6 separate regions of the Homo sapiens genome follow, and all the other regions are linked to region 5. Evidence: fine-mapped expression QTL. A gene starts in region 5. Each other region holds a variant in brackets. All regions are shown on one strand. Distances are from middle to middle. Region 1 overlaps LOC105376020 (a long non-coding RNA gene). Region 2 has its middle 21 kb from the start of AQP3. Region 3 has its middle 13 kb from the start of ANKRD18B. Region 4 has its middle 18 kb from the start of AQP7. Region 5 holds the start of AQP3 (aquaporin 3 (Gill blood group)). Region 6 overlaps AQP7 (aquaporin 7).

Evidence for each region. PIP is the estimated chance that this variant, and not a neighbour inherited with it, causes the effect. A credible set is the group of variants that fine-mapping cannot tell apart.
Region 1: its variant is the best candidate, but not a certain one, in a credible set for the expression of AQP3 in whole blood (TOPMed, PIP 0.59).
Region 2: its variant is the best candidate, but not a certain one, in a credible set for the expression of AQP3 in whole blood (INTERVAL, PIP 0.66).
Region 3: its variant is the best candidate, but not a certain one, in a credible set for the expression of AQP3 in prefrontal cortex (ROSMAP, PIP 0.87).
Region 4: its variant is the best candidate, but not a certain one, in a credible set for the expression of AQP3 in lung (TOPMed, PIP 0.63).
Region 6: its variant is the best candidate, but not a certain one, in a credible set for the expression of AQP3 in anterior cingulate cortex (GTEx, PIP 0.62).

What each region holds. Positions count from the first base shown.
Region 1 is chr9:33,409,943-33,414,029 of GRCh38, reverse strand. LOC105376020 (a long non-coding RNA gene) reads right to left here. Exons shown (of 3, transcript NR_188543.1): 3 at 3,480-3,790. Among named protein-coding and RNA genes, the nearest start is that of AQP7, 9.4 kb to the right of the region's middle. The variant G/A (reference allele first, on the strand shown) is at 1,778.
Region 2 is chr9:33,425,023-33,429,109 of GRCh38, reverse strand. No RefSeq gene overlaps it. Among named protein-coding and RNA genes, the nearest start is that of AQP3, 21 kb to the left of the region's middle. The variant T/C (reference allele first, on the strand shown) is at 2,533.
Region 3 is chr9:33,509,311-33,513,397 of GRCh38, reverse strand. It overlaps the pseudogene SUGT1P1 and the pseudogene VN1R47P. Among named protein-coding and RNA genes, the nearest start is that of ANKRD18B, 13 kb to the left of the region's middle. The variant TA/A (reference allele first, on the strand shown) is at 1,669.
Region 4 is chr9:33,418,097-33,422,183 of GRCh38, reverse strand. No RefSeq gene overlaps it. Among named protein-coding and RNA genes, the nearest start is that of AQP7, 18 kb to the right of the region's middle. The variant T/C (reference allele first, on the strand shown) is at 2,174.
Region 5 is chr9:33,445,175-33,449,261 of GRCh38, reverse strand. AQP3 (aquaporin 3 (Gill blood group)) reads left to right here and starts at 1,669. Exons shown (of 6, transcript NM_004925.5): 1 at 1,669-1,839. The coding sequence starts at 1,732. RefSeq lists a silencer at 1,494-1,683.
Region 6 is chr9:33,388,339-33,392,425 of GRCh38, reverse strand. All of the region lies in intron 3 of AQP7 (aquaporin 7), which reads left to right. Among named protein-coding and RNA genes, the nearest start is that of AQP7, 12 kb to the left of the region's middle. RefSeq lists enhancers at 741-1,035, 562-1,348, 1,349-2,136. The variant T/A (reference allele first, on the strand shown) is at 2,175.

The DNA.
Region 1 (4,087 bases), 35 kb after region 5:
CCGCTGCTCCAGCCCACATGCAAGACTGAACCTAAATAAAATCACACCAGACCGGGCGCGGTGGCTCGTGCCTGTAGTCCCAGCACTTTGGATGGCCGAGGTGGGTGGGTTGCTTGAGCCCAGGAGTTCGAGACCAGCCTGGGTACATGGCGAGACCCCATCTCTACAAAAAATACAAAAATTAGCGTGGCATGGTGGCATGCGCCTGTCGTCCCAGCTGAGAGAATCACTTGAACCCGGGAAGTCAAGGCTGCAGTGAGCAACATTCACGCCACTGCATTGCAGCCTGGGCAACAGAGCGAGACTGTCTCAAAAAAATAAACAAAGCCAGGCAGGGTGTGTTGGCTCACGCCTGTAATCCCAGCACTTTGGGAGGCCAAGACGGGCGGATCATGAGGTCAGGAGATCGAGACCATCCTGGCTAACACGGTGAAACCCTGTCTCTACTAAAAATACAAAAAAATTAGCCAGGCATGGCGGTGGGTGCCTGTAGTCCCAGCTACTCAGGAGGCTGAGGCAGGAGAGTGGCGTGAACCCGGGAGGCAGAGCTTGCAGTGAGCTGAGATCACACCACTGCACTCCAGCCTGGGTGACAGAGTGAGACGCTGTCTCAAAATAAATAAATAAATAAAATTAATAAAAAATAAATAAACCATACACCATTAGAGCTCTTTTTTTTTTTTTTTTTTTTTTTTGAGACAGAGTCTTGATCTGCCACCCAGGCTGGAGTGCAGTGGCACAATCTTGGCTCACTGCAACTTCTGCCTCCCAGGTTCAAGCAATTCTTGTGACTCAGCCTCCTGAGTAGCTGGGACTACTCAGGCACCCACCACCCCACCTGGCTAATTTTTTTGTATTTTTAGTAGAGACGGGGTTTCACCGTGTTGGCCAGGTTGGTCTCGAACTCCTGACCTCAGGTGATCCTCTCGCCTCAGCTTCCCAAAGTGCTGGGATTACAGGAGTGAGCCACCACACCTGGCCACTTTTTTTTGTTTTTGAGGCAGAGTCTTGTTCTGTTGCCCAGGCTGGAGTGCAGTGGTGCAATCTTCGCTCACTGCAATCTCTGCCACCTGGGTTCAAGTGATTCTCCTGCCTCAGCTTCCCCAGTGGCTAGGACTACAGGCGTGCACCACCACGCCCAGTTAATTTTTGTATTTTTAATAGAGACGGAGTTTCATCATGTTAGCCAGGCTGGTCTCAAACTCCTGACCTCAGACGATCCTCCTGCCTTGGTTTCCTAAAGTGCTGGGATTACAGGTGTGAGCCACTGCGCCCAGCCCAGAGCTGACTTCTCATATTTTTTTTTTATTTCTTTCTCTTTTTTTTTTTCTTTTTTTTTTGAGACAGGGACTTGCTCAATGGCACAGACATGGCTCACTGCAGCCTTGACTTCCCAGGTTCAAGTGATCCTGCTGCCTCAGGCTCCTGAGTAGCTGGGACTACAGGTGCATGCCACCATGCCTGGCTAATTTTTTTCCTTTGAGATGGAGTCTCGCTCTGTCGCCCAGGCTGGAGTGCAGTGGTGTGATCTTGGCTCACTGCAAGCTCCGCCTCCCGGGTTCACGCCATTCTCCTGCCTCAGCCTCCTGAGTAGCTGGGACTACAGGCGCCCACCACCACGCCCAGCTAATTTTTTGTATTTTTAGTGGAGATGGGGTTTCACCATGTTAGCCAGGATGGTCTCGATCTCCTGACCTCATGATCCGCCTGCCCCGGCCTCCCAAAGTGCTGGGATTACAGGTGTGAGCCACTGCGCCTGGCAATTTTCGTGTTTTCT[G/A]TAGAGATTGGAATTCTCCATGTTGCCCAGGCTGGCATTGAACTCCTGGGCTCTAATGATCCACTTGCCTTGGCCTCCCACAGTGCTGGAATTAGGGGTGTGGGCCACTGTGCCCAGCCACTTACTCAAAGAAATACAGGGGATGACGGAAAAGCTGAATGACACTACAAAGAAAAAACACAGACAAATCTAGAATGTGGGACTCTTACAGGACTACATTTATTCAGCAAGTCAATGACATGAAAAAATAATGATGGAGAAAGGGGAATTCCTCTTGTTTAAGAGAACATTTAACCCAACGTAATGTGTGACCTTGTTTGGATCCTGATGCAAACAATCCAACAAATCAATGCAAAAAGACACTTTGAAACAATTCCAAGTATTTGATCATTCTATGGAATTGTATATTTTGTCAGGTATGGCACTGATTATTTAAGAAAATGTTCCTATATTTTAGAGGGAACACTGAAGAATGTAGGAATGAAATGACAGAGTAGCTGGAATTTAACATATTTCAGAAAAATAAAAATAAAATAAAATAGGCAGTTTGAGACCAGCCTGGCCAACATGGTGAAACCCCATCTCTACTAAAAATACAAAAATTAGCCGGGCCTGGTGGTGGGTGCCTGTAATTCCAGCTACTTGGGAGGCTGAGGCACAAGAATCTCTTGAACCTGGGAGGTGGAGGATGCAGTGAGCTGAGATCGCTCCATTGCACTCCAGCCTGGGCAACAGAGCGAGACTCCGTCTCAAAAAGGGGAAAAAAATGGCTGTAAAATGGAGAATGAGTGAGGGTGATGCAGGAGAGGTGAGCCCCAAAGTGGGGCTTGGCCTGCGAGGGTTCTCGGCTTTGCCTCTCAAGGGCAATGCAGAGAGAAGTAGAAGAAAACAGCTTTATTGAAGCGGCAGTGTTACAGCTCCATGACTGCCCCTGCACAGCAGGGCTATACAGAGGCGGAGAGCAGCAGCCCAGGGCAGTTTTGCAGTTATATTTATACCCACTTTTAATTGTATGCAGATTAAGAGGCAATTTATGCAGAAATTCCTAGGGAAGGGGTGGTAACTTTTGGGCCATTGGGTCATTGCCATGGAAAGGGGTGATAACTCCCAGGTGTTGAGATGGCAATGATAAATTAACATGGCACATTGGGGCGCATGTCTGATTAGAAAGCTGCTTCCAGCCCTGTTTTAGCTAGTCCTCAATCTGGTCCAGTGTCCAAGCCCCACCTCTGGAGTCAAGTCCCGCCTCCTACTTCAAGGGGGATGCAGACCGGGAGACCCGTGGAGAGGCTCTTGGAGATTAGATTTGGGGCTGATTGAGGGGGCCACGAGAGAGGGAGTAGTTGAGTGACTCCTGGAGGGAAAGCTTCAGAGATGTGGTGGGGAGGAGCATTCCTTGGGCTAGGCCCTTGGGAAGGGGGCAGACTGTGGGGAGGTGAGGTTGGGTTGGGGCAGGTGAAGGTAATGTGCTTGTTACACATACGAGATAACAAGAGAGGAGGCTGGACCACTTGTTCTTGAGCTCCGGGCTGGAGATGGAGGCTGGGGAGGTGGCAGCATTTGCGTGGGGGAAGAGGATGTGAGAGCCATGCAGGGCTGCCTTCTCCATGACGCACAGGAGGCACAGGACCCATGAGAATGTTCAATCTAAGGGCCCACAAAATGTTTTAGTTTGCATCCAAATAAGAAAAAGAAGAACTTGTAGGCTGAAGAAAATGTTTTAATATTGATACATCAGGGCCGGCGTGGTGGCTCACACCTATAATTCCACTTATTTGGGAGGCCGAGGCGGGTGGATTGCTTGAGCTCAGGAGTTTGAGACTAGCCTGGGCAACATGGAGAAACTCCGCCTTTACAAAAAATACAAAAATTAGCCAGGAGTGGTGGCAGGCACCTGTAATCCCAGCTACTTGGGAGGCCAAGGCAGGAGAATCGCTTAAGCCCAGGAGGCAGAGGTTGCAGTGAGCTGAGATCGCACCATTGTACTCCAGTCTGGGTGACGGGAGTGAAACCCTGTCTCGGAAAAAAAAAAAAAATTAATATATTTGTCTTTATACCAATAGTTGTAAAATAGAATTAATTATTACTATTATTATTATTTGCTGGAAGAAGGGGCCCAAAAGGGCAAAAATGCCAAGGGCACATATATCTAAAAGAATGGAAAGCATTGGGAGCTAAATGATAAGAACTTACGAACACAAAGAAGGAAAGTGCAGACACGGGGGTCTTCTTGAGGGCGGGAGGAGGGAGAGGAGCAGAAAAGACAACTATTGGGTACTGGGCTTAGTACCTGGGTGATGTAATAATCTG
Region 2 (4,087 bases), 20 kb after region 5:
CAGGGTTTCACCATGTTGGCCAAGATGGTCTCGATTTCTTTTCCTCGTGATCTGCCTGCCTCGGCCTCCCAAAGTGCTGGGATTACAGGTATGAGCCACCGTGCCCAGCCCTGGAAGTAACAAACTTCTTTGTTAGTAACAAACTGTGTGGAAAGTTTGGGGAGACAGAGGGAATTTACTTTGGTGGTTTTTTGTTTTGTTTTGTTTTGTTTTTGTTTGTTTTTTTTTTTGAGACGGAGTTTTGCTCTGTTGCCCAGGCTGGAATGTAGGGGCATGATCTTGGCTCACTGCAACCTCCACCTCCCGAGTTCAAGAGATTCTCCTGCCTCAGCCTCCCAAGTATCTGGGATTACAGGCGCGTGCCACTACGCCCGGCTAATTTTTGTATTTTTAGTAGAGACAGGGTTTCGCCATATTGCCCATGCTGGTCTCAAACTCCCAACCTCAAATGATCTGCCCACCTTGGCCTACCAAAGTGCTCGGAATACAGGCGTGAACCTCCGTGCCTGGTGGGGAATTTACCTTGTACAACACGTTCAAATTGAATATTAAACATCTCTATTCTTCGAAATCATTTTGGCTCCTCCACCAGAGGCTATTTCTCCCTGGCCCCTTCACCCCACTTAGTACCCCTGCCTCTGGCCACACTGCTGGTTTTCTCTACCCTCCCATCCCCCCCTCCTTACTTTCTCTCTCCTGATTGCTCACTATACTCTAAATTACTTTTTATACAGTGTTTAGCTTAGCCGAAGGGTCACTGGCACAGTCCCCAAGATTTCCTTTAATGAGACCCACTCTCTTCAGGGTTGTGTTTTGTTTTGGTTTGGTTTGTTTTGTTTTTTGAGATGGAGTTTTACTCTTGTTGCCCAGGCTGGAGTGCAATGGCATGATCTCGGCTCACTGCAACCTCTGCCTCCTGGGTTCAAGCGATTCTCCTGCCTCAGCCTCCCGAGTAGCTGGGATTACAGGCATGCGCTACCACGCCCGGCTAATTTTGTATTTTTAGTAGAGATGGGGTTTCTTCACGTTGGTCAGGCTGGTCTCGAACTCCCGACCTAGGGTGATCCGCCCTCCTCGGCCTCCCAAAGTGCTGGGATTACAGGCGTGAGCCACCGCGCCTGGTCTCTTCATGGTTTAAAAAGCAGTTTGCACCAGTCTGGGCAACATAGTGAGACCCTGTCTCTACAGAAAATAAAAAATAATAGCCGGGTGTCGTGGCACACACCTGTAGCCTCAGCTATTCAGGAGGCTGAGGCAGGAGGATCGCTTGAGTCCAGGAGGTCAAGGCTGCAGTGAGCCATGATCACACCCCTGTACTCCAGCCTGGGTGACAGAGTGAGATCCTGTCTCAAAAAAAAAAAAAAAAAGTTTGCCCCACTCTGTTACAAGTAAGTAGCACTGTCCCAATGGTGGCTGCCATTCGCTGCCATTGTTCTTCCAGACTGAGCTTCATGGAGACAGGGACACAGGTCTGGTTGTGCAAGTCAGCCCCTAGTACCTTGCAAGGAGTTTAATAAATATTTGTGGGATGAATGGATGGGATTATTCAGAACCCTCTTGAAGTCCACCTTCCTTTCTCTCTCCCCACAGGGGATAGTTACGAGAAAGAATTAGAGGCCCAGAAACTTCTAATGGGGTCAGCCGTGGAAGAAGCCTGGTGGAATAGACAAAGCTCTGGCTAGAACTTTTGTAGTCTGTAAGGAGAAGGAGGCTAAGTGTTTGTGGCCAACCCCAGATTGGAGTGGATGTGGACCCAGGAGGGAGGAGGCAGAGATGACATTAAGGTTCCATGCCTGGGTCCTTCGATGGGCCTGGGCACAGCCGACACAGGCACCTAGCCTGCCCCCACGGCTGGGGCTCCACCTAGAGATCTTATCCACGGCATGGCTGATACATGGTACTGAGTCATGAGACCTGCGGCCTAGGAAACAGTTCCGCTGTTGAAACAGGCCCAGGGGAGGGGGGCTAGATGGGTGTCTCTGACTTGCTACTGGCACAGACATCATTGCCACCCACACTTCCTGTCACCCCTGGGTCACCTTGATGGTCATCACTCCTCTCTGACCCTGTCACTCATTTGTCACCCTCACCATCATCCCTGCATCACAACCACTGCCCCTTTCTTACCCACGCTGTCACTTGACCCAGTTCCCATCATCGTGTTACCTTCTTGAGCATTGCCACCATCCCTGCCCCTGCCCCATGCCCAAGCCTGTGGCTATCTGGACCAACCCTTTGTCAACCACCTCCAACCCAACCTGTCACTTGCTAGTTCATTCCCATCTCTCCTGTCACCTTGACTGTCCCCACCCGACCCTGTCACCTTGTCACCTTTGCTGCCACAGCCCCAACATAGTCTCCCGCTCTTACCACCTATCTCAGTCCCCATCATCTCTAAGTCTTCTGGACTGTCACCACCCTCCTGCTGCCCCTTTGTTAGTCAACCACTACTGCCCTACCTCTGCCTCCTCCCGATCATCATCCACATCCTCTGATCTCAAGCCCCTCACTGAGGTCCCCTTGGTGTCTTTC[T/C]CTTTGACATGCTCAACATGTGCCCACATTTGAGACTTTGCCCCTGCCTTTCCAGCCTCTGGCCTCCTCTGGGCTTCCTGACCTGGATTTGCTACACTTAGCTTTGCCGTCTGCCCTGGCAAGCGATGCTTCATTTTGACCTCTAGGTGGGCTAGGCCTTGGGCCTAGGCACTTATTCCCAGGGTATTAAATAAATACCAGGTAGAAGCCTTTTCCAGGAAGCCCTGAATCTTCTCTGCATGCACTCATGACAACTGGCAGTTGCCTCTGCCCAGCCTGGCCCTAAAATCTCCATTTATTAACATGACAATTATTTTCCTTTTTAGAATTCCCCAATATATCCCCTTTTTTTTGAGACAGAGCCTCACTCTGTCCCCCAGGCTGCAGTGCAATGGCGAGATCTTGGCTCACTGCAACCTCTGCCTCCCGGGTTCAAGTGATTCTCCTGCCTCAGCCTCCCAAGTAGCTGGGATTACAGGTGTGCACCACCATGCCCAGCTAATTTTTTTGTATTTTTAGTAGAGACGGGGTTTCACCATGTTGGCCAGGCTGGTGTCGAACTCCTGACCTCAGGTGATCTGCCCACCTCGGCCTCCCAAAGTGCTGGGATTACAGGTGTGAGCCACCGTACCCCAACTGTGTTTTTGTTTTTTTTTTTTGAGACGGAGCGTCGCTCTGTCACCTAGGCTGGAGTGCAATGGCCCAATCTCAGCTCACTGCAACCTCCACCTCTCAGGTTCAAGTGATTCTCCTGCCTCAGCCTCCCGAGTAGCTGGGATTACAGGCATGCACCACCATGCCCGGCTAATTTTGTATTTTTAGTAGAGACGGGGTATCACCATGTTGGCCAGGCTCGTCTCAAACTCCTGACCTCAGGTGATCTGCCCTCCTTGGCTTCCAAAAGTGCTGGGATTCCAGGCGTGAACCACCATGCCCGACCCCAGTGTAACCTTATAATTCATCAGTGTCCCCTTATCCTGATGTGATAGCCCCCCAGTACCTTGACACTTAACACTTATAACTAACCACCATTCGTGTAATCATGTGTTTAAGGCTGTCTTGCCCACCAGGCAGGACGCTGTGGGAGGGCAGTAACTATGTTTTGGTCACTGCCAAGTCCCCATAGTGCCTGACTTCCAGTAGGAAATCCATAAATGTCTGTTGAGTTAATAAATACCATTTACCAAGTCCTTAATATGTGCTGGGCACTATGCTAAGCACTTGATTAACTTGTTTGTTTCCTGTTTTATGTTTGCGGTCCCTTTCTATTTTATGTACTTTTGAGCATTTCAAAGCTTTTTGGCACGGACACTTCTGACAAAGTTCAAACAGAGAAGTGCATTTTCAGTTACTCATCAGAGTGAGGCCACTTAGAGAAAGGCAGTTAGTTACTCACGGAACAGGGAAAACACTTTCTTGTAATTAGGGAAAAGGGAATCTGGGCATGACATGTCAACTCTGTATTTCATCTTCTGTTCTCCAAGGGAGTTTCAAGAAACTGAGGGAAGGCCGGGCGCCGTGGCTCACACCTGTAATCCCAGCACTTCAGGAGGCC
Region 3 (4,087 bases), 64 kb before region 5:
CCCTCCTTCTTGGTTAAGATGGAAAAGAACCTCCTCTTTTAATTCCATTTGTGCATTTAAGAAATTCCATTTGGTTGTATATAATTATTCTTCTAAGATTATGCTAAGATCAGCACATCTATATTTTACTTGGATCTCTGATCACTATAGATGATATTTGCCTATAAAACAAGCATTGGTGTTTTCAATCACAATCAAAAAGAAAAAATTCAAAACGATTCTTTTAAAAACTCACAAGAGATACAAAAATATTTTTTAAATACATGGATTGTCTTAAAAATTATTTCTCTCTGTTGCTATGACAGCATAGTGGTCAAGTCCATTGTCAGCTTCTGACACTGCCTCTTACAAGGAGGTGACTTTGGAAATGTCATTCAGCCTTCCTGTGCCCGAAATCACCTCACCTGTCAAATGGGAACAATAAAGCACTTCAAAGAATTGTTGTAAAAGTTCTATGTAAAACACTGTTACAGCACTCTTATGCTGGGAATATATATCTATACACACATATATTTTTATAGCGAAACTCTCAGGAAGAGGAAAATGAAGTTTAATAGGAAATTAATGGCTTGAAAACAATGGTACATGGAAAAGAGTGGCTTTCAGTTGCCATAGTACAACAGGCCTCTTGTTTTCACGCCAGATCCTCTCACTCTGAATAGGATGATCAGTCATTGAAAAAAGAAAAATGGCCTCCAGGGATGTGGCAATAGGAATGATCTTCTTATCTCAGACCACAGTAGGATTCCTGGGCAATTGCTTTGTTCTTCACCATTATAGTTATTTATTTCACCAGATGCACATTAAGGTCCACAGATCTGATTCTGCAGCACCTGACTGTAGCCAACTCCTTGGTCATTCTCTCTAAAAAATGCTCCTATCCTTGTCAATGCTTGGTATTGGAAATCCTTTTAATTTAAGTCATTCTGGTGGTAGTTTTATTATCTCATTATAATTTCAATGTCCACGATACAGCTATTTTTTTTTTTTTTTTGAGACAGAGTCTGACTCTGTTGCCCAGGCTGGAGTGCAGTGGTGCCATCTCGCTCACTGCAACCTCTGCCTCCCAGGTTCAAGTGTTTCCTGTGCCTTGGCCTCCTTAGTAGCTGGGATTATAGGTGTGCACCACCAAGCCCAGGTAATTTTTGTATTTTTAGTAGAGATGGGGTTTTGTCATGTTGCCCAGGCTGGTCTCCAACTCCTGGCCTCAAGGGATCCACCCGCCTCGACCTCCCAAAGTGTTGAGATTACAGGCATGAGCCACTGTGCTCAGCCATGACATAGCTATTAATATAGAACTTTTCATGTGGGCCTATAGGTCAATCTAGGAATTTGCCCTTTCAGAGGCTATTCATATTTATATGCATATTGGTGCATGGCAGGGGTTGGTGTATACACCTTGGTGTATGGCTGAGCCATAAATGGAGCATACCTGAGAATAACCCTATTCTAAGTGTGTTTGGAGTCCCAGGCTAAGGAATCCAGGAGTAGCCAACACTGAGATTCACTACTTACCTATGAAGGACAGCCATACCCCTGCCCCATCCCTTGGAACACAGCCTGTACAGGTGATCAAGGCCCTTTATTTTGGGTTAAATGGAGACTGCTAGAAGGAGGGTTCTAAGTGAAAATGCGATATGCTATATGGACTACATGCTTTTTTTTTTT[TA/A]TACAAACGGTAGCGTTTCTCCAGGCCAGCCCACCACCACTGGACCACCCCTGTATGTAACTCCTGAATAAACGTTATGTTTCCTTCACTGGTTCTGCCTCTCCTATAGTGTCATCCCAATCGGAATCAATGGGGATCCGGAAGGACAACCGGCCATTTAGATAACATTTGAAAATTAACCAATGTAATTGGTCACATTGTAACATTATTATTAAAATATTATTTTAAAATTATTATTATATAACAGTAACATATTATTATTAAAAATACATATGAACATTTCAATAAAGGTAGAAAAAGCACTTGATATTGAATGCTTTCCTCTTGATTTTACAACCAAGACAAGGAAGTCCATTATCACTATTTCTATTCAATAGTGGACATACTAGCCAGCAACAAAACTAAAAGGTATAAAGATTACAGGAAAGTTAAACCATCTCTATTCACAGACTGCAAGATTGTAATCACATAAATTCCAAAAGACTCTACAGACTCTACAGTCCCACGGCAGCCCCTTCCTCCGCGCCGCGGCGGCGCCTCCGGCCCACGTCACGCTCGCGCCATTGTTTCCCAGCCGCTGCTCGCTGGGACCCCGCCAGCCCTCGAGCGCGGCCATTCGCCGCGTTCTGCCCTCTCCCCCCTTTCCTCACGCTGGTGGTGGCCCTTTCCTCAGTCCTGCTGATGTCCTCCAGCTGATTCCAGGCTGTTCCCGGCCACCCCTGAGGCCGTCCTTTCGCTTCTTGTAAAAGCCTCCCCGCCTCCTGAGCTCCCTCGGTCGCCTCCCGAGAAGCCAACGGGCCTCTCTGGTGGAGCGTTAGGTTGACAGCGTTTTAGCAGGACCGCGAGAAACCGGGGAGATCCTCTTACGAGGAAAAACTCCAAGATTACATCCCTGTTATCTTTCCTCCAAGTAGTTTCTGATCATAAGTTATTTGTTTAAAAATGATGTTTTAATTAGAATTTATTTGATGGCTTTTAAAAAACTTTTACTGACACTCAACATGTTTGTTTTTGTAGGAGCTGACTAAGGCTTTGGAACAGAAACCAGATGATGCACATATATTATCGTCAAAGAGCTTATTGTCACATTCTTCTTGGGAATTACTGTGGTAATTTTTCTTATAAAGTATATTGCCCCTTTTTAATAAGTTACTTATACATTTTACCCATGACCAATTAATCAAATAAAATAAAGGTTGTCTTTGAGGATTTTTGAGTTGGTCTTTCATACAAGGTAAAGTAGCTCAAGTGTGACAGACATGTTGAGCAACACCTATTTAAATTTTATGGATGTCTCTTTTTTCGTTCAGTGGGTGGATAATGTATATAGGTTTCATTCGTAGTTATTGAGTAGGCTGATAAAGAATAGTATCACATTTACTGTTTAACAGAGTATTAAAATGACATGCTCTTCTTTGTATTTTTTTATAAAAAAGAATGTGGCATGGTGGCTCACGCCTGTAATCCCAGCACTTTGGGAGGCCAAAGCGGGAGGATCACATGAGCCCAAGAGTTCGAGTCTAGCCTGGACAACATAGCAAGACCCTATCTATATTAAAAAAATAATGTATTCCTGTACTGTGTAACTTTAAAAATTATTCTGATGAAGAATCTGGATAGGGAAAAACTGAATATCTTTTTTTTTTTAGATGGAGTTTTGCTCTTATTGCCTAGGCTGGAGTGCAGTGGCACAATCTCATCTCACTGCAGCCTCTGCCTCCTAGGTTCAAGTGATTCTCCTGCTTCAGCCTCCCAGGTAGCTGGGACTACAGGTGTATGCCACTATGCCTGGCTAATTTTGTATTTTTAGCAGAGAGGGGGTTTCACCATGTTGGCCAGGCTGGTCTCAAACTCCTGACCACAGGTGATCCACCCACCTCAGCCTCTCAGAGTGCTGGGATTACAGGCGGGAGCCACTGCACCCCGCCAAATTACATAAGTGATGCTAATGAGAAAAGGAGATGAATTTTGTCACACAGCTTTATTCACTGACCGAAGAGCTTTAAGAAGAAAGCTAAATGTTAAGCCAAAAGGAAGGTACAAGAGTAATATTTATTTGAATTCTGTGTTGGATTAGCTTTTCCTAATTTAAAACCATTTGGCGTTTCTATTAACTCGAAAACTTGGAAATCTAAAACTGATCAGTATTCTGTGTGTGTTTGCTAGAATCTGTAAATAACTGACAAAAAACATCTTTTTCTTTCTTTCTTTTTTTTTTTTTGAGACGGAGTCTCACTCTGTTGCCCAGGCTGGAGTACAGTGGCGCAGTCTTGGCTCACTGCAACCTCTGCCTCCCAGGTTCAAGCGATTCTCCTGCCTCAGCCTCCTGAGTAGCTAGGACTACAGGCGCGTGCCACTGCATCCGGCTAATTTTTAATTTTTTTTTTCATAGAGACGGGGTTTCACTGTGTTAGCCAG
Region 4 (4,087 bases), 27 kb after region 5:
TGTAATCCCAGTACTTTAAGAGGTTGAGGCAGGTGGATCACCTGAGGTCAGGAGTTTGAGGCCAGCCTGACCAACATGGTGAAACCCCATCTCTACTAAATACAAAAAATTGGCCGGGAGTGGTGGCACGCGGCTGTGATCCCAGTTACTTGGGAGGCTGAGGCAGAATTGCTTGAATCTGGGAGGTGGAGTTTGCAGTGAGCAGAGATTGCACCATTGCACTCCAGCCTGGGCAACAAGAGGGAAACTCCATCTCAAAAAAAAATGTTTTATGTGAAAGTACCATTATTATTATTATTATTTTAGACAGATCTTGCTCTGTCACCCAGGCTGGAGTGCAGTGGCACAATCTCGGCTAATGCAACCTCTCCTTCCTGGGCTCAAGCAATTCTCCTGCCTCAGCCTCCCAAGTCGCTGGGATCACAGGTGTGTGCCACCACACCTGGCTAATTTTTGTATTTTTAGTAAAGACAGGGTTTCACCATGTTGACCAGGCTGGTCTCAAACTCCTGACCTCAAGTGATCTGCCTGCCTTGGCCTCCCAAAGTGCTGGGGTGACAGGCATGAGCCACCTAACCGGGCCATGTCAGTATTTTATAATCCTATATTACTTTTGATTTATGAGATTGTAAATTCTTTTTTTTCTTTTTTTTATATACAGAGTCTTGCTTTGTCACTCAGGCTGGAGTGCAGTGGCTGGATCATGGCTCATTGCAGCCTCCTGCCTCAGCCTTGAAAGTAGGTAGGATTACATGCCCATGCTACCATGTCCAGACAATTTTTTATTTTTTTGTACATAGGGGTTGTGCTGTGTTGCCCAGGCCGGTCTTGAACTCATGGCTTCAAGCGATCCCCCTACCTTGGTCTCCCACAGTGCTGGGATTAAAGGCATAAGCCAACACCTAGATTGAAAGTTTTATGAGGCCAGGATTCTTAGACAGTCTCTCGCTCTATTGCCCAAGCTGGAGAGTGCAGTGGCCCAATCTTGGCTCGCTGCAACCTCCGCCTCCCGGGTTCATGCAATTCTCATGCCTCAACCTCCTGAGTAGCTGGGATTGCAGGTGTGCGCCACCACACCTGGTTAATTTTTGTATTTTTCAGTAGAGACAGGGTTTCACCATGTTGGCCAGCCTGGTCTCGAACTCCTGGCCTCAAGCAATCCATCTGCCTTGGCCTCCCACAGTGCTGGAATTACAGGTGTGAGCCACTGTGCCTGGCTCAGGATTCTTTTCTATTTCCAAGCACCAGACTTTGTAGATGTTGAATGAAAGAGGGATAGGGAAAGTGCAGCGGAGTAATTAAGCAGACTTTTTTGCTGCACCTCTCATCTCTTTTACTTTAATTCTCCAGAGTAACCTCTCCTTACACAGAAAGAATGTTTTGGGGGCCGCCTTGATCTACAAAACCAAAAACCAAAAACAAAAAACAAAAAACAAAACAAAACAAAAAACCTCACACATGTGATGACATATTTAGGAAGTGCTGTAGACTTGAGAAAATCTTATCAGAAATATGAAAATAAGACCCGATTATGCACTAAGCCTGCTCCTCCTCCTTTGTTTCCATCAGAGAGGGGCACCACCCCACCAGAAACCCTGGGGCTACCCCACACACCTGCACCCCAACTCGATCATTCACTGGCACCATCCTCCAGTCCAGCCCCTTTTTCCAATCCTGATGCGACTCCCTTTGTTCCAGTTACCACCAACTCCTGCCGTTATTACTGCAACTGCTTCCTAACCAGTTTCTCTGCTCCACTCCTACTCTTCCCACCAAATTCGTGCCTTCTGAGCTCCAGCAATGCTTTAGAGCTTTCTAACATACTAATCTTTCCCTGCCACTCCCGTTTACAGACTTTCAGTGACCCCCATCAGTCCCTCGAGCAAGGACAAGACCATTCATGGTCCAGCCCGGGCTTAGCTCTCTAGTGTCAGGGGCTCCCATCCTGCTCCAGCCACACATTTCCCAGGCTCCCTCGGGGCCTTTGCATGAGTTGACTTATTCTTTCTGTCCCTCACCCTTTTGCCTGGCTAACTCTTTCTCATTTCTGCTGTTAAAGAGGATGTCCCTTCCTCCAGGAAGGCTTCCCTGATATTCCCAAGCTCCAAGCTTGGTTCAGCGCTGTCCTCTCAACTCCCACAGACCCGTGTGCTTATCACCTCTATACTTGCAT[T/C]GTAGCTTCTTGTTTACTCACCAGCTTCTCTACATGCCTTGTAAGTCCTCCAGGTCTGGGACTGGGACTTGTTCTCCAGTGCGCATCTACCACCTAGCACTTGGGAGAGCTCCCACGGCTGAATACATGAATAATGAATAAATGAAGTACTCTTGTAGGAACTGATTAACATTTTTTCTTCTTCTTCTTTTTTTTTTTTTTGAGGCAGAGTTTTGCTCTTGTCGCCCAAGCTGGAGTGCAATGGTCCAATCTCGGCTCACTGCAACCTCTGCCTCCTGAGTTCAGGCGATTGTCTCGCCTCAGCCTCCCAAGTAGCTGGGATTACAGGTGCCCGCCACCACGCCCGGCTAATTTTTCTATTTTTAGTACAGATGAGGTTTCACCATGTTGGCCAGACCTCAGGTGATCCATGCACCTCAGCCTTCCAAAGTCCTGAGCCACTGCGCCTGGCACATTCACACTTCTTAAGATGCTCGGTAGACATTCAGAAAAAAATGTCCTAAAAGGACGCATACATTCTCCAAAGAAGGCTTAATTGTCTTAGGATCTAAGAAATCATGTAGATTTGATTGGCAGGAATTTGGGGGTGAATATATAGATAGGAACTGTGGTGTACTAAGGGGAGGGGGCAGTTGGTTCACCCCATCTGTGTATTTTACCACGGACATTGTTTAACATTGCTGCTGATAGGGACAACAAGAAGCAGACTGACTTTTTTTTTTTTTTTTTGAGACGGAGTCTCGCTCTGTCGCACAGGCTGGAGTGCAGTGGTGCGATCTCGGCTCACTGCAAGCTCCGCCTCCCGGGTTCACGCCATTCTCCTGCCTCAGCCTCCTGAGTAGCTGGGACTACAGGCGCCCGCCACCATGCCCGGCTAATTTTTTTTGTATTTTTAGTAGAGACGGGGTTTCACCGTCTGGTGGTCCTCCCGTCTCAGCCTCCCGAAGTGCTGGGATTACAGGCGTGAGCCACTGCGCCCGGCTGCAGACTGACTTTTAGTCAGTTTTATTGTTTTTAAGTTCATTGCATCGCTTCTTAGCCTTTTGGCTAAGATCAAGTGTTTTTAAGTTCATTGCCAATGATGCGCCCCCTATTGCCGGCCCCTGGGGAGGACAGCACCCACCCCCACGCCCCCATTTAAGTATGCCACCTGTAAGGAACACTGATTACTGGGTGAGCTGGTCTGTTTTCCTTCCCTCAGCACTGAGCTGGGAAGTATCCAACCTCCCAAAACCCTGCAGGGCAAGATTGTCCCTCCTGGACTGGGACCCACTCCCTGTAACTCCTCTAGCAACCCCTACTCTCTCAGGGGAGCCCTCTGAGTCTCCTCCCTGGAGGCTGTCTGTGGGAAGAAGTCTCCCTGTGTAGGGATGGGAGGCCTTCCCTTGCGTAGGATCTAGCCTAGGATCTAGTCTTGTCCCAGCCACTAATCCACCCTGAAGCCTTGGTCTGGCCCTCAGGGCTTTACTCCACCTACCTATAAAGCTTGAGGAGTTTGGTGAACTGGGTCCTGAGGTCCTTCAGGGACCTTCCCGAGTTGCGGAAGGGGTGTCAGCCATGGGGATGGGTGGAAGGTGCCCCCTCAAGCCCCCTCTTCCTGCTGTACTCTCTGACCTGAGTGAGACATTCTACCACAGGGCACTGGCTGGGTTGGGCGTGTCGGCCCGCAGGATGGAAGGCAAGTCTGGACAGGTGGATAGTGGAGCCTCGGCCCCAGGGTGGGGTGTGTGCCCTGGAGAACCAGGAGACAGGCAGGAGCAGATCCTAGGCAAAGATCAGAGGTGGGTGAGGTGGCTCCAGCAGGCCAGCTGCCCTTACCTGGCGACTGTCTCCAGGAATTGCAGAGACAGATACTGGGCTAGGCTAGGTCCTGGCTCTGCGGTAGGGATGGGGAGTGGCTAGAGGGTGGAGAAC
Region 5 (4,087 bases):
TGGCAATGCTGCCATAGAAGCTCAGCCTAAGGGCATGTTGTTTGCTCCCAGGCCACCAGATGTTTCCTTGTTATTAAAAGCAGCATAGAGGGCAAGGTTGCACTTCGGGAGGCCGAGGTGGGAGGATCGTTTAAAGCCAGGAGTTTGAGACTAACCTGGGCAACATAGCAAGACCTCATTTTTACAACAGATTTTTAAAAATTAGCTGAGTGTCATGGTGGCACATAGTCCCTATAGTCCCATCCATTCTGGAGGCTGAGGTGGGAGGATCACTTGGGCCCAGGAGTTCGAGGCTACAGTGAGCTGTGATTGCACCACAGCCTGGGTGATGGAGCAAGACCCTACTCTTTAAAAAGAGAGAGAGGGCAAGGTTGTCCCATGATCCCCCTCAGATAGGGCTGACTCCCCCATAATTAAGTTTGCTTAAAGAGGCAGACTTGCTGGGCTCAGTGGCTCACGCCTGTAATCCCAGCACTTTGGGAGGCTGAGGCGGGTGGATAACTTGTGGTCAGGAGTTCGAAATCAGCCTGGTCAACATGGTGAATCCCCATCTCCACTAAAAAAACAAAAATTAGCTGGGCATGGTGGTGTGCACCTGTAATCCCAGCTAATCGGGAGGCTGAAGCAGGAGAATCACTTGAACCTGGGAGGTGGAGGTTGCAGGGAGCCGAGATCACGCCATTGCACTCCACCTAGGCGACAGAGAGAGACTCCGTCTAAAAAAAAAAAAGAGACAGACTCTTCCTTGGCTGGGGGTAAGTCAGATGGGAGAGGAGAGGGTTAAAAACAGCTGGGACTCAGCCTGCTGGCAAACATGTGGCATGTGGCATGTCGGGGCAACTGCAGCTCAGCCTCTGGAGCCATGTGAGCAATGCACGCAGGTACACGTGTGACAAGCTAGGTCACCTAGCCATGTTCAACAGGCATGTGCACAGCCACGAGGAATGCCCAGCCGTACAATTAGGCACACAGGACATCCGCCATGTGTAGACACAGCTGTGGACATAGCTGGCCAGGACATGCGACACACGACGTGCTCATAGCACAGGGAGAAGGGCCCATGAAGTCTGGTTGGAACTCAGCACGTGTGTCTGTGTGCCCACCTGAGTCTGGACTGCTGCCCCTCTGACACTAGCTGTCCCCTTGAAGGGTCGGTGCCTTATCTGTCCTGACAGAAGAGACAGTGTTGCTTCTCACTTGGGGCTCGCAGCCTCCTCCTCCTGCCTCGAACTGAGGATCTGTTGGGTCCAGTCATCCTGGAGAGATGCGGCCAGTTTCTTTCTGACAGGTCTCCTCCTGCCCGCAAGGAAGTGGGGTGATCACAGGGCGCAGGTGGTCTCTATGACAGCTGCATCCTCTCCAGCCATGGCCCTGAACCCTGCCTATAATCCCACCATTGGCTCTCAGATCTGCCTAAGCCTCTCAGCCCCCTTGACGTCCCCTCCCTTAAGCGCCCTCCGAAGGCCACCCGTCCCTCAAAGCTCCTCACACTCCATGCCCGCAGCTCCCTCCACCCGGCGTCCGCACCAGCCTCCCAGCCGAGGTGGGGCGGGGGCGAGGGGGCGCGCACTCCTCGGCGCTCCGGGACTGCAGGGCGGGGCTGCAGGGCGGGCGGGGCCCGTGTCTCCAGCGCTCCTATAAAGGGAGCCACCAGCGCTGGAGGCCGCTGCTCGCTGCGCCACCGCCTCCCGCCACCCCTGCCCGCCCGACAGCGCCGCCGCCTGCCCCGCCATGGGTCGACAGAAGGAGCTGGTGTCCCGCTGCGGGGAGATGCTCCACATCCGCTACCGGCTGCTCCGACAGGCGCTGGCCGAGTGCCTGGGGACCCTCATCCTGGTGGTGAGTGGAGGGAGCCGGGGAAGCCCTTCTCTCTCCAGCCCTTGCACTCCCCAAACTCTCACTTCCCCGAAGGGGCTGTGTTTTCCAAGGTAGCCTGGACCCACCTCCCCAGCTGTGACCCCCACGCTTAACCGCGGAGGATCAAGCTGACTTCCAAAGTCCTCTTCCCCACGGTTCTAACCCCCTCTCTGACAGCTCCGACTCTTGCCAGAATGACAGCTGTTACTCCCCAGTGATAGTGCCGATCGTTTACCCTCCCACAAGTGACTCAGCCAACAGGCTGGGGGCAGCGGTCACGCTTGCAGTCTGGGACAGCCAGCCACTTCCCCTGCCTCCCACACCCCTCCAGATTCCCAGAATCCCAGCCCCCAGATGTAGGGGAGGGGGCGGAGGCAAATGAGCCATTATTAGGTTATTTGGGTCCTGGGTGTCTGGCCTCTAATGAATAATTAAGCCTCAAAAAGTCCAAAGGTTGAAGTGAGTGAGGACAGTTTGCACGAGTGGGGGCAGAGGGTGCAGGCCACATGGGCTGCGAACAGCGAAGTGGGAAGGGAGGCAGATTCTGACGGTAGAAGGGTGGGAGGAAGCTAGGCCCAGGCACAGAGGACGCGTGTCTAAAGTTGCTCACCTGGTGCTCAGCGACTCCCAGGCCCTGTCTGTTATCCAGACAGATGCTGTCAGCGTCTGTGCAGAAGACGACAAGCATTCTGGTTACTCCCTGGCCTCTTGGTTACTCTGTGGGTTCTCTGAGTGAGCATTTCCCTGCCTGAGTTACTCCTCAGTCCTAGTTACTCCTTGGTCACACCAGTTTCACCCTGGTTTTGTTCTGAGTGACTCTGTTTGCACTTCTTAGGTCTGGCAGACCCACCAGTTATGTTCTATTTCCTGTCCCAGTTACTCTGATTTTTCAGCCGCTCATGTGGTTACACCTGTTTTCCTCTGTGTTCAGTTGCTACATTGCAGTGAGTGGGTTACTCCGTTCCTGCCCCAGCCCTGGGTAGTACAGACCAGCTGGCCCACTGTGGACTAGGAAGCCTAACTAAGGGCAAGTAGGGATCCCCAAATGGTTGAGGATCAGGATCTATGGGCAGAGGAGGGCTGAAACCCACTTCTGGCTTCCAAGAATAGGAAGTGGGGAAGCCACAGGGGGCATTTTATCCACAGCCTCCCATAAGATTAGTCGTCCTATCAGCCAGCCCTAGCCCCTCTCTCCTGTGCCAAGAAGGCAATAGGAGGTGGCCTTTATCACTCTCCTGCCTCGGAGCCCTCACTCCTATCGGAGTCCTGAGTCCAGCCACCTGTTTTAGAGCAGCCAGGCTAGGGGAGGATGATGTCTTCTATTTTCCTAGAGGGGCCTCCTCATTCCCTCCCAAGTCTCAGTTCACTCTCTCACAAAGGAGCCGTTAGTCCTCCCACTGAGCCCCAGGATCATCAGGCTTATCCCAGACCACAAAAGAAGAGTGTTAAATTTTAGGGGAAGGGTTGCAGACTCAGATGGATGTGAGGTATTGGATATCAGTGAGAAGCAGAACTTCAAGGACTGCATGAACTGGAGGGGCAGGCCTGGGGATCCCTTTGTAGTGGGTGAGTGCCTGCCTGCCTACCTGCGTGTTGGGAGCCTAGGCCTGCAGTGGCAGAATCAGGGTTGGCTTTGGGGTGAGGAAAGCCCCTTTCTCTGAGATACCTGGTGTGAGGGCAGGGGGCGGTGCTGGCCGAGAACTCAGGGCAGGGGTTGGGGGAGGAAGAGGAAGATTAGCCCCAAGGTGGTGGAACTGGCTCTGACAGCTCCTCCCTCCAAGGCGTCCTGGGATGGAGCCAGGTCTGAGCCTTTGGCAGGCAAGGAGCTGCTGCCAGGGCCTCCCAAGCAGGGCAGGGCGCCTCAGACCCTCACGTGCCTGTCTCCCACCACCCCTCCTCACACATACACCTGCAATCTCTGATCTTTGCTCTCACCTGCCTGCACACCTTTGCCCCATGTCATTGCCGCTGGCTTCTCCGTTATCTCTTGGTCTTTCTGGGATGATAATCAAAATGCTTAACTATCCAGTACAACAGGCACTGACCCGTCAGAATAAACAAGGTCTGTAGCACAGGTCCTGGAAACTGCCTGCTCTGTGGGCATAAAACCTTTAGTTATGGGCAGGTGGGAGAGGAGACCAGGGCAAGGCATTGGAGCAGCTTTGAGGGACACTCAGGGGGCTCAGGGCAACAATGCTTTACAGCTGCTGCAGAAGTATTTTCAGGCTTG
Region 6 (4,087 bases), 57 kb after region 5:
TATTATCCCAGTTTCACAGATGGGAAAACTGAGGCTCCTTGAGACTAAGCCTTTTGCCCAAGGTCACACTGTAAGTCAAGATTAAATCCAGTGCAGTCTAATATCACAGTCTTTTTTTTTTTTTTTGAGATACAGTCTTGCTTTGTCACAGTGGCGCGATCTCAGCTCACTGCAACCTCCATCTCCCGGGTTCAAGCGATTCTTGCGCCTCAGCCTCTGGAGTAGCTGGAATTACAGGTGCATGCCACCATGCCCAGCCAATTTTTGTATTTTTAGGAAAGACGAGGTTTCACCATGTTGTCAAGGCTGGTCTTGAACTCCTGACTTCAAGTGATCCTCCCACCTCGGCCTCCCAAAGTGCTGGGATTACAGGCATGAGTCACCGTGCCCGGCCCAGTATCACAGTCTTGACCGTTAACCTCTATGCTCTGTCCCTTAGCTTAAATATTGCCAGCTTTTGAAGACTCTGGCTTGTTAATGCTCCCCCAGCCAGGGTAAGGTCCTCACTTTCAGGTAGTTCAAGATGCCTCTCTCGGCCTCAGTTTCCCCATTTATAGAGTGGGAGAAAAATTCTTGCCGTGCAGATTTGCTGTGAGGATTGAAGACAGTAGCACTTGTAAAAGAACTTTGTGAGGTGTAAGCCTATATCGGACATTGTGTTGTTGTTATTTTTAGTTGCCAGGCTGTGCCAAGAAGTGAGGGCTTTTTGTTTTTGTTTTTATATATATATACAGGAATCTCAGTGAGTCACCAGGGTGAAGGTTTTGCCAAAAAAGCTAGTGTGACCTTGGCCCCATTTATTGCAGCCAGGATGAGGGAAGTGGACTGATCCATGTTGCAGCTTCCAGGGGTGTTGCCCTTGGAGCTGGCCTCCTGGCTGTGGGGGAGAGTTGGATGGGCTGGGCCACATTCACTGATCAGGGAGAGGAGGGGCTGGAGCCATCCGGGCCCTGGAAAACCAGCCATACACGTGAGACACGGGGCAAGGGTTGTAGATCACATGCTACGGGGGCCAAGAGAGCGGCAACTCAGGGCGGTGGGGACTTTGGCTGGCTGCAGAGTGCCAATCTGTGCAAGGCTGTAGAGCTGCCGCCACTCCAGCTGACTGTTGCCATGGAGAGTGGAATGCAGGCCAGTGTTGCCTGAGCTGCTCATTTTTCAAGAGAGAAGGAAACTTCTGTTCTTCAAAACCAAGTTATCTAAACAAAACCTGTGCGCTGGATGAATTACGTGCATGAGTTGCCAGTTGGCAACCCTGACACAGGGAATCATGTGGGGTTCATTCACTCACCCAGTATTTTATTTTATTTATTTATTTTGAGACCGAGTCTCACCCTGTTGCCCAGGCTGGAGTGCAGTGGTGTGATCTCAGTTCACTACTCTGCCTCCCAGGTTCAAGTGATTCTCCTGCCTCAGCCTCCTGAGTAGCTGGGATTACAGGCATGTGCCACCACGCCTGGCTAATTTTTTGTATCTTTAGTAGAGACGGGGTTTCACCATGTCGGCCAGGCAGGTCTCGAACTCCTGACCTCATGATCGGCCTGCCTCGGCCTCCCAAAGTGCTGGGATTACAGGCGTGAGCCACCGCGCCCAGCCTATGCTCATCCAGTATTTTTAGCACATGGTATTGGAATGGGGGAAAGGCCATGGGGGCCCCTCTGTTTTCAGACCCTCCATGCCTGCTCCAGTCCCTCTACCTCTTGACCCTGCCAGCCTGTCAACCTGTCCTGGCCTCACTCCCCCCTGCACCCCCATCTGTTCCTGTCCTCTCCTGCTGTATCTTATCCTGGATCTGAAGCCAGCCTAGCTCTGGGCTCCCCTGCTTCTGTCCTGGGGCTTCTGAGGGACCCAGTGGGCCCTGCTCAGCTGCCTCTCCCCCACCATATCTGGGCTATTTCACATTTTCTCAGACTTCCCCAAAGCTGCTCTGTACTCTGACTTTTTTTTTTTTTTAAATCAGCAAATGGCTTGATCTGCTGCTTGACAGGTAAAATAATCAACACTTCCTGTGTTCAGCTCACCCTCTTGTCCCTCTCACCACCAGACCCATTAACCACCCATGTATCCACATATCACCCCTTGGCTGGGGCGGGGTCCTCTCCTTCCTGGAGGACCCCTCCACTTCTGCACCAATCCAGCTGTCCAGCCTATTCAGGTACTTTACTCTGTCCTTT[T/A]TCTCTGTCCTTTATCTTCAGCCTGTCCCTCTCTCAGCCTATAAATATACTGAAGTTTCTCCACTGAAAACAACACAAAATGAAACATCCCTCCCTTCACCCTGTCAGCCCCTTCGCGGGATCATGTTCTCTCTCCCCCGCTCCTCAGGCGAGTTCTCGAAGAGGAGTCTACACTGGTGTCTTTCAACTCTTTTTCTTTCTTTTCTTTTTTTTTTTTTTTTTTTGAGACGGAGTCTTGCTCTGTCACCCAGGCTGGAGTGTAGTGGCGTGATCTCGGCTCACTGCAAGCTCCGCGTCTTGGGTTCAAGCAATTCTCCTGTCTCAGCCTCCTGAGTAGCTGGGATTACAGGCAAGCGCCACCACACCTGGCTAATTTTTGTATTATTAGTAGAGACGGGGTTTTGTCATGCTGGTCTTGAACTCCTGACCTAAAGTGATCCATCCACCTCGGCCTCCCAAAGTGCTGGGATTACAGGCATGAGCCACCGCATCCGGCCTGGTCTGCCTTCTTACCCTGTACCCTCTCCTGGGGCCTTCTCCTCTGACGGCTTTGACTTCGGCCCTCATGTCTACAATTCTCCAGGTTTTCTCTTTTATCAACTCTAGAACAGAGTTCTCCAGGGGAAATACAATACAAGCCATCTGTATAATTTAAATTTTTCTAGTATCCACATTAAAAAGGTAAAAAGCAACAGGTGAAATTAATTTTAATAATTAACCCATATATCCAAAATCCTATTTCAAGATGCAGTCAATGTAAAATTATTAGGATATTCTGGCCAGGCATGGTGGCTCACACCTGTAATCCCAGCACTCTGGGAGGCTGAGGTGAGAGGACTGCTTAAGGCCAGGAGCTCGAGACCAGCCCGGGCAACATAGTGAAACCTCATCTCTACACAAAATAAATTGAAAAAATTAGCTGGGACAGGGCGCAGTGGCTCATGCCTGTAATCCCAGGACTTTGGGAGGCCAAGGCAGGCGGATCATCTGAGGTCAGGTGTTTGAGACCAGTCTGGCCAACATCGTGAAACCCTGTCTCTACTAAAAATACAAAAAAATAGTTGGGCATGGTGGCGTGCACCTATTATCTCAACTACTCGGGAGGCTAAGGCAGGAGAATCACTTGAACCCGGGAGTTGGAGGTTGCAGTGAGTAGAGATCGTGCCATTGCACTCCAGCTTGGGCGACAGAGCAAGACTCTGTCTCAAAAAAAAAAAAAAAAAAAAAATTGGCTGGGTGCCGAGGCACATGCCCATAGTCCCAACTACTTGGGAGGCTGAGGTGGGAGGATCACTTGGGCCCAGGAGATGGAGGCTGCAATGAGCCCTGATCATGGCACTGCACTCCAGCCTGGGTGATAGAGCAAAACCCTGTCTCAAACATCAAACAAACAAACAAAACAGTGGCACAAGAAAGCAAGGCATGCATGGAGCAGCACAGTTGTTTGGTTTGAGGCCATCTGGCACAGGTAACTGCCTGGATTTAATCCTGGCTCACCAGGTACAGGCTGTGTGACCTTGGACAAGCCATTCAAGTTCTCTAAGCTTCAGATTACCCTCTGTCAAGTGGGGGAGAATAATAGTGCTTAAGTCATAAGATTGGTGTTAAGGGTTAAAGGAGGTGATCAGTATAACTCGCTGGCATGTAGGCAGTGCTCAATAAATGGTTATTATTATTTAGTAGTAATACTATTGCTGAATACAAAGAGTATTGGGGCAGATATGAAACAGGCAGAAAGGATGAAATTATGCAGGGTCTTCAATGGTGGCCTACTGAGTTTGGACTTTATCCTAGAAGTGGAGGAGAGCCAGTGAGTGAGTCTGGGGAAGACGCGATGGGGTTTTTGTTAGGAAGATCACTCTGGCTGCAAGGAGGAGGCTGGGTGAGGTTTGGGGAGAATGTAAGCAGAGCTG